Homo sapiens: one gene and its partner. The protein of the gene in region 1 purifies or fractionates together with the protein of each later gene. This does not show direct contact. Each region holds a gene or a part of one and is shown in the gene's direction. Other genes may lie near its edges. The genes, in order: CACNA2D1 and NDUFS4.

Region 1 (2,754 bases):
ATAGGATTTTTGATACTGTGAAAGTTTTTTCTTTAAAATTAGTATATTATTCAAACAGCATTTATTATTTTCTTTCATAATCATCAAAAGCTACAACTAAAAATTTAAAGCATTTGTCAAATGATGCTAGGGAAATTCCTCAATGATAAAATCTAGGAGAAAGTAATTTCTTTGGATTTCAATTACAGCAGTTTTATAAGGTAAGTTCAGAAAGTGAACTAAATATGGATTACTCTGAAAGATGTGTTACTAAATATTTTTCAAGATTTTTAGATTTTTCTTTTTCTGTTCTTTTCTTTTTTTTTTAACAACAGGAGGATTATACTGACTGTGGTGGTGTTTCTGGATTAAATCCCTCCCTGTGGTATATCATTGGAATCCAGTTTCTACTACTTTGGCTGGTATCTGGCAGCACACACCGCCTGTTATGACCTTCTAAAAACCAAATCTGCATAGTTAAACTCCAGACCCTGCCAAAACATGAGCCCTGCCCTCAATTACAGTAACGTAGGGTCAGCTATAAAATCAGACAAACATTAGCTGGGCCTGTTCCATGGCATAACACTAAGGCGCAGACTCCTAAGGCACCCACTGGCTGCATGTCAGGGTGTCAGATCCTTAAACGTGTGTGAATGCTGCATCATCTATGTGTAACATCAAAGCAAAATCCTATACGTGTCCTCTATTGGAAAATTTGGGAGTTTGTTGTTGCATTGTTGGTGATTACATGTGAAAGGGTTCCCCATACAATTGTTAATGAACCATAAGAAATGTCTTGATATTGACCTGGAATTTTGACTTGCTGCAATTTTACTAAGAAAATCTCTAAGGGGAAAGAAATTATTTTTGCCTTCACTTTTTCTTCTGTGAAAAGTTAATTCCTGCTTTAAGTAGCAATTATTGAAATATATAGAGAAAGAGAGAATTAACATTGGTCTAAATTGTTGAAATATAAATAATGGCTAATTTTCTATGAAAAATTTGCCATGAATAAAATGCCTTATGAAGAACGGCTTCTTTGCCAAAAATAAAACACAATTGATGACCAATTCAATTTTGATGGGGTAATGAATTGATGGTTTGAAAATAGTAACTAAGAAATTATTAAACTAAAGGTGCTTGAGGGAGAAATTAGAATATGTGACATATTTCCTCATAAATGTAAGCAAGCCCTTAATAAATGCTTTGATGTAATGTTCCTTTTGTTCACAGTACAGTTATGTAGTGCTAGCCAGATATTTAAAAATGCTCTAAGAAAAGCTTGTCAGGGGGGAGGGGGAAATGTTTTTCTTGTGATAAATGAACTTTGGTTTACCAAGGGTATTTTGCATGATGCTGCTGCTATTTTAACTTTTCAGTTGTTTTTTCTCTTACTGTAGAGTGTAGTCATTGAAAAGTTAACTGAGTGATATTGTTATGTAAGAATCTGAACCTTGCAGTGTAAATGCACTTAAGTCATCTTTAAAATGTTGTTAAACTACTCTGAATATACTGTGCAATGTAAATGCTGAATGATTGGGGTTAGATAAATGGTGAAATGAGAATTAATGAATTTTATACAGATTCATGCTTTCGCCTGATAACCTATGTACAGATATTTTAAGTACATAAATCAGATTTGACACATTTATTTTTTGAAAAGTACATATATGTTCTCAATGAAGATTCATCCTAGGTTTCCTCTTTGTTCGTTTCAATAGTAGCACATACAATCCAAAAGTTCCTGCTACTGCTGCTTTTGCCCTTCCATTTTAAATGGTATGATCGTTTGGCCAAAATTTCCATGCAAGTTGATAAGGGTTTTACAATAATCTGAACAAATAGGAAACCTTGAATCTCTATGTATGCACATGAATACTTGATTGTGAATAATAAAAGTTGTTTTTTATACAGCCTCATTGGTGAAAATGGTTAGTGTAGTAAATCAGATATTTCATTATAGACTAATATGGTAGCAGATTATTTATGCTTTTAAAAATTATTTTCTGGAGCAAACAGTATTTGAAGAAAAGGTAAAAACTATGAATGTGTAATTCTAAGAATAGTTAATAATTTTACTGAAGGCTGAACGTATGTAGATATTTTTTATGATAAAATGCAGTTTTTCTTTTTTTGGAACATGCCAATTACTGGTATGTGTATATGCTGGAAATTTTCTTACATATCCTTTTTAAGTCAAAGTTATTAACATTATCCAGCATGCTTTAATATGCTCCACATATCAAAGATATAACCAATAATTTAACGTAGCTTAAAAGATAACATTTGTTTTGTTTTTAGCTTTGCATACATTTGTAATTCCCTCCCACCACCAATATACCTTAGGTACCATTTGTGTACATTTCAAGATTTTTTTTTTCAATAAAAAGGTGGGGGGAAATGGAATCACTTTGCCAACTATTGTTCTAAGAGTTGACATCAGTTACCATTTCTAATGCATTGTTGTGATTTTGTAGTGTCATTCATAACTGGTATTGACATTTTAGAAAACACCAAAGTGATTTAAAATATATGTGGGGAAAAAAACTTCTCACTCTAGTAACAATGTTTTAATCATGTTGTTTGTTAAATATTTAAAAGTTATTGTTCAATTTTTGCTAGACTATCTTAAATCATGATAGTGTTGGGAAGGGGGTATCAAAATATAAAATTGTTAGTTTGTGTATATAAACAATGCACATTAAAACAATTGAATTGCTTCCAGCATACAACAAACTACCTTAAAATTATGTTCAAAATCTATTAAATATATTT
Region 2 (3,837 bases), on another chromosome or scaffold:
GGCTGTGCAAGAAGCATGGTGCCATCATATGCTTCTGATGAGGCCTTCAGGCTGATTCTACTCATGGCAGAAGGTGAAGGTGAACCGACTTGTGCAGAGATTACATGGTGATAGAGGAGGCAAGAGAGAGAGAATGTGTCAGGCTCTTTTAAACAACCAGCTCTTGGAGGAACTCTTGCAGAAACTAATAGAGCAAGAACTCACCCATTACCACAAGGGCAGCACCAGACCATTTGTGAGGGATCTGCTCCAATGACCCAAAAACCTCCCGTTAGGCCCCACTTCCAACATTGGGGATCAAATTTTAACATGAAATTTGGAGGAGATAGCCCTTTCCAAAGATAGGCAAAAAGAAAGAAAAGACTTTGTTGCTATAGTGGTTATGGATCTCCAGTTTCCCATGGAATATGACATGCCTGTAATCACACACACATTAATCTGTGACATTAACCATATGACTGACCAGCTAAGGTTGAGATGACAGAATCCCCTTAAAGACCGGGACCTTTATTACAAACTTCCCTGAGAGCTGGTGTGGTTGGACAGAGAATGTCCTTTAAAAAAATGTTTGTTATTTTCTTGAGGACAGAGATCATGTTTTCACTGTTGCTCATTGTGTTCAGTGTCTAATATGTAGTAAGTGCTAAAAAATACGTTGAATAAATGAGAAACATTCTTTTTGTTGCCGAAGGTAACCACTTCACATATGTTATTTAGTACTCATTTTGGTATAGCAAACTGATTTCATACATGATGAAAAAGGAGTCTATTAATTTGCCCAAAGTTGAGAACTGGGATTCCAACCCAGTTTTGACTCAGCCCTTTGCTTTTAGCCAAGGCTTTCCTGCTCAGAAGGATCTAGGAGTGGTAAAAATAGTTTGTGAGATTGAAAAACATGTCTCTAATTATTAGTTTTGTACTCCTTGTATGATTAGTAGCATCATTTGCATGAACTATTTCTATCATATTATCCACAGCAGTTCATTCAAACTACACTTTTGGCTCAATGATAGTTTTGCCCAGTATGCAAAATATAACAGATGTCACATTCCAACACTTGATTCATTGCCTGGTTGGACTCCAACATCAATTTGTTACTTTAACAAACAAACAAAAGTTGGTTCTAATGGCACAACTCAAATTTATTTTTATGTTTTTTATTGTATCTGAATCTATATGGCCCCTAAGTTTTTAGAAGTGTTTAAGTTCTTCCACAGTAAGTAAATAGATATGATAATGCTATCTGCCAACTCTTTATATTTTTTAAACTGTAAAATTTATTTTGTAAAATGTCCTTATTTATGAAACCTTTAATGAGTTTCTTGCTTTAAGTATCTGTGGGTTAGTTGAAAGAAAGTTTTTATTACAGGTCTAAGACTTGCTTTTCTTTGAACATCTTTTATGGTTGAAATAGAATGTAAACTCAGTCATCAAATTTAGATTAGTTTTAGCTGTAAATAACTAATAGTCTGCGGTAGAACAAGTTTCTATAAACAGTATTTTTAATGTTTCAATATGTGCTCTACTAAAACTGTTCAGCATTGATCCATACTAACATGCAATTTAGTGAACTTACTAGGAAAAGCATGATAAAAGTTTTGGCTTTTCTGGGCGTACTGAGAGATCTAGCAAAAATGCATCCCAAAGTGCAAAAACCTTACATTTATTTCTCTTCATGACAAGTGTAAACTGTTAAGGTTAAGTGGGTGGGGCAACCGGAAGTAATTACTAAGGCCAGTGGCATTTTTGTGGTTTAATAAAGGCAGAAGCTAATTATTCAGTTTTTATTTAAGTGAAATGGTGCCAAAAAGGAGGTTCCTGTGGAGCAGCTGCACTCCTTCAGTGTTGCCCTAATTTACCAAAGACACAACTGTCACAAACAAAACTTTTAAACTTGATATATAGCCACAAAAGTAAGGAGGCTTTTGTTGGGAGTGCATGCAGAAGAACTCCTTTATACAAATCAACCGGCAGATGACGGACAATGATGAAAATTTGATTCTTTGAAGTCATAATAGTCATTGAAATGTGTGAAATTCTGGTATTGAAAAGAGAGCGGCCAGCAAGACTCTAAATCCTGGGTGGTTGCAAGAAGCTTGCTGGGAGGTTTTTCTGCATTTTGACACCAACTTCCCATTGCTTGTTCCCTGCTTCCTTTGTTAAAGAAAAAAAAAGTTGAAATCACAGAAGATAAATGGAGACAGTTGATAACCGAATCATACAGTTTTAATATGGAAAACTAGTATTTTATCATGGAAATTGGTATTTGAAAGAATAAAGTTCATATACATATACTGGTACATTCATAGTGATTTTTTAAATTTTCTCTTCATTTATGTAGACTTGTGAAATGGCAGGTCAGCTATCATCTCCTCCAAAATTTAAAATTGTTGAAGATATGGTGTTGAAAGAATGAACTTTGGAATTATGACATGCATCTTTCCAATAGCAAATTTTGACTTGAATGCCCTTAATCTGTGAATTATCATTGACTTATTAGTTATCATTTATTAAAATAGCATATTGCACATAAGGTTGTATTTCTGAAACTTTATTAGGATAATGACATTAATAATGGAAGCATAGGTTTCATACTTGACCCAACTATTCAACAATTAAGTTTTAAAATTCAATAAATCTGTGTATATTACTTATAGAGTAGCTTGTTTTATTAGAATTTACAGATAATTATTAACTGGTGAGTCTTGAGGTTCTTCAGGTGCCAGCTTGAAGGCTTTTCATACCTATGTGATTTAGTTTTTTGAATTATTATTTATAAATTATTTATCTCTATTTTACCAGTAAAATAAGAAATTTGTAAAAGGCAATAGTGACATCTTTCTCCAAAGCATTTCTAGCTTTTCTAAATAGGTTTCAAAAACTCACAGGTGATCCATATTGCCATACAAAAGTAGAAATCCATAAAGAATACAATTAGTTCAATATAATTTAAATAGTTTGCGGATTTTAAATTTTTTTGTGAAAGTTAGATCTCAGGTAGCTCCGTGTGAATTTAGAGGGAACCACACAAAGCGTTGAAGACACAAGTAGAGTTCAGCATAGTGCCTCATAGTTCTTTTCAAGTGTTACATTGTTTTAATGGAATCTTGGAGTGGGAGCTTTAGCCCATTGAAATGTGCTTAAAGAACAGGTTCTTCTGTCACTAGCCGAAGCTGTGTGGATGAAATGATAACAATAGGGTGTCGTGATGCATTTTTAAAGTGTGAGAAATCAGGTTGTCTAGACTGAGAGTGTGCCTACAGGGACTAGGAATTTTAGAGCCTCTGTACCCTTTAGGTGTCAAGTATATGAGAGATGCCAAGCCTCTTTATTCTGTCTTTGGCAGCAGCTCAATTGGGCTGTAGTACCTTACATGTCTTCTGCATGCAAAAACTGATTCTGTGTCATGACAACTTGGGTTCCCAAAATCAGAAACCCACTTGTTCAAATGCCAACTTTAAATTAGGGTAAGATACCAATAAATAATTGCTGTAATTCGAGAAGACATGGAAGATTGGTAGTTATGAGTTCAAAATATAAATAGCTTAGCAACATTGTGTAGACACTTTTTAAAAAAGGTTTTCTATATACTGTCCTTTCTACTTTGTAGCTCAAATACTGTTTTATAGTATAAATCAAGAAATACTATTTCAATTTTTTTCAAAACTTGAAAAAGTTTAAAATCTTAAGTTTTTTAATCACTTTGGCATATATGCATCACAGTATAGAAGTAGGTAAAGTAAAAGTGTTTCCTCTAATCTTCCTGAGGTAACCAGTGTTAAGAGTTTAATGTGTTTCCTTTCATATAGTTTTAAAAATAGACATAACTTACAGCTC

What was found.
Region 2: the proteins of CACNA2D1 (region 1) and NDUFS4 fractionate together in Homo sapiens (co-fractionation; one large-scale study listed by BioGRID). This does not show direct contact.

What each region holds. Positions count from the first base shown.
Region 1 is NC_000007.14:81,948,069-81,950,822, reverse strand, and holds part of CACNA2D1 (voltage-dependent calcium channel subunit alpha-2/delta-1 isoform 1 preproprotein), read left to right. Parts: intron 1-314; coding exon 315-431; 3' UTR 432-2,754. UniProt on the Homo sapiens protein: The alpha-2/delta subunit of voltage-dependent calcium channels regulates calcium current density and activation/inactivation kinetics of the calcium channel. Plays an important role in excitation-contraction coupling.
Region 2 is NC_000005.10:53,640,446-53,644,282, forward strand, and holds part of NDUFS4 (NADH dehydrogenase [ubiquinone] iron-sulfur protein 4, mitochondrial isoform 1 precursor), read left to right. Parts: intron 1-3,837. UniProt on the Homo sapiens protein: Accessory subunit of the mitochondrial membrane respiratory chain NADH dehydrogenase (Complex I), that is believed not to be involved in catalysis. Complex I functions in the transfer of electrons from NADH to the respiratory chain.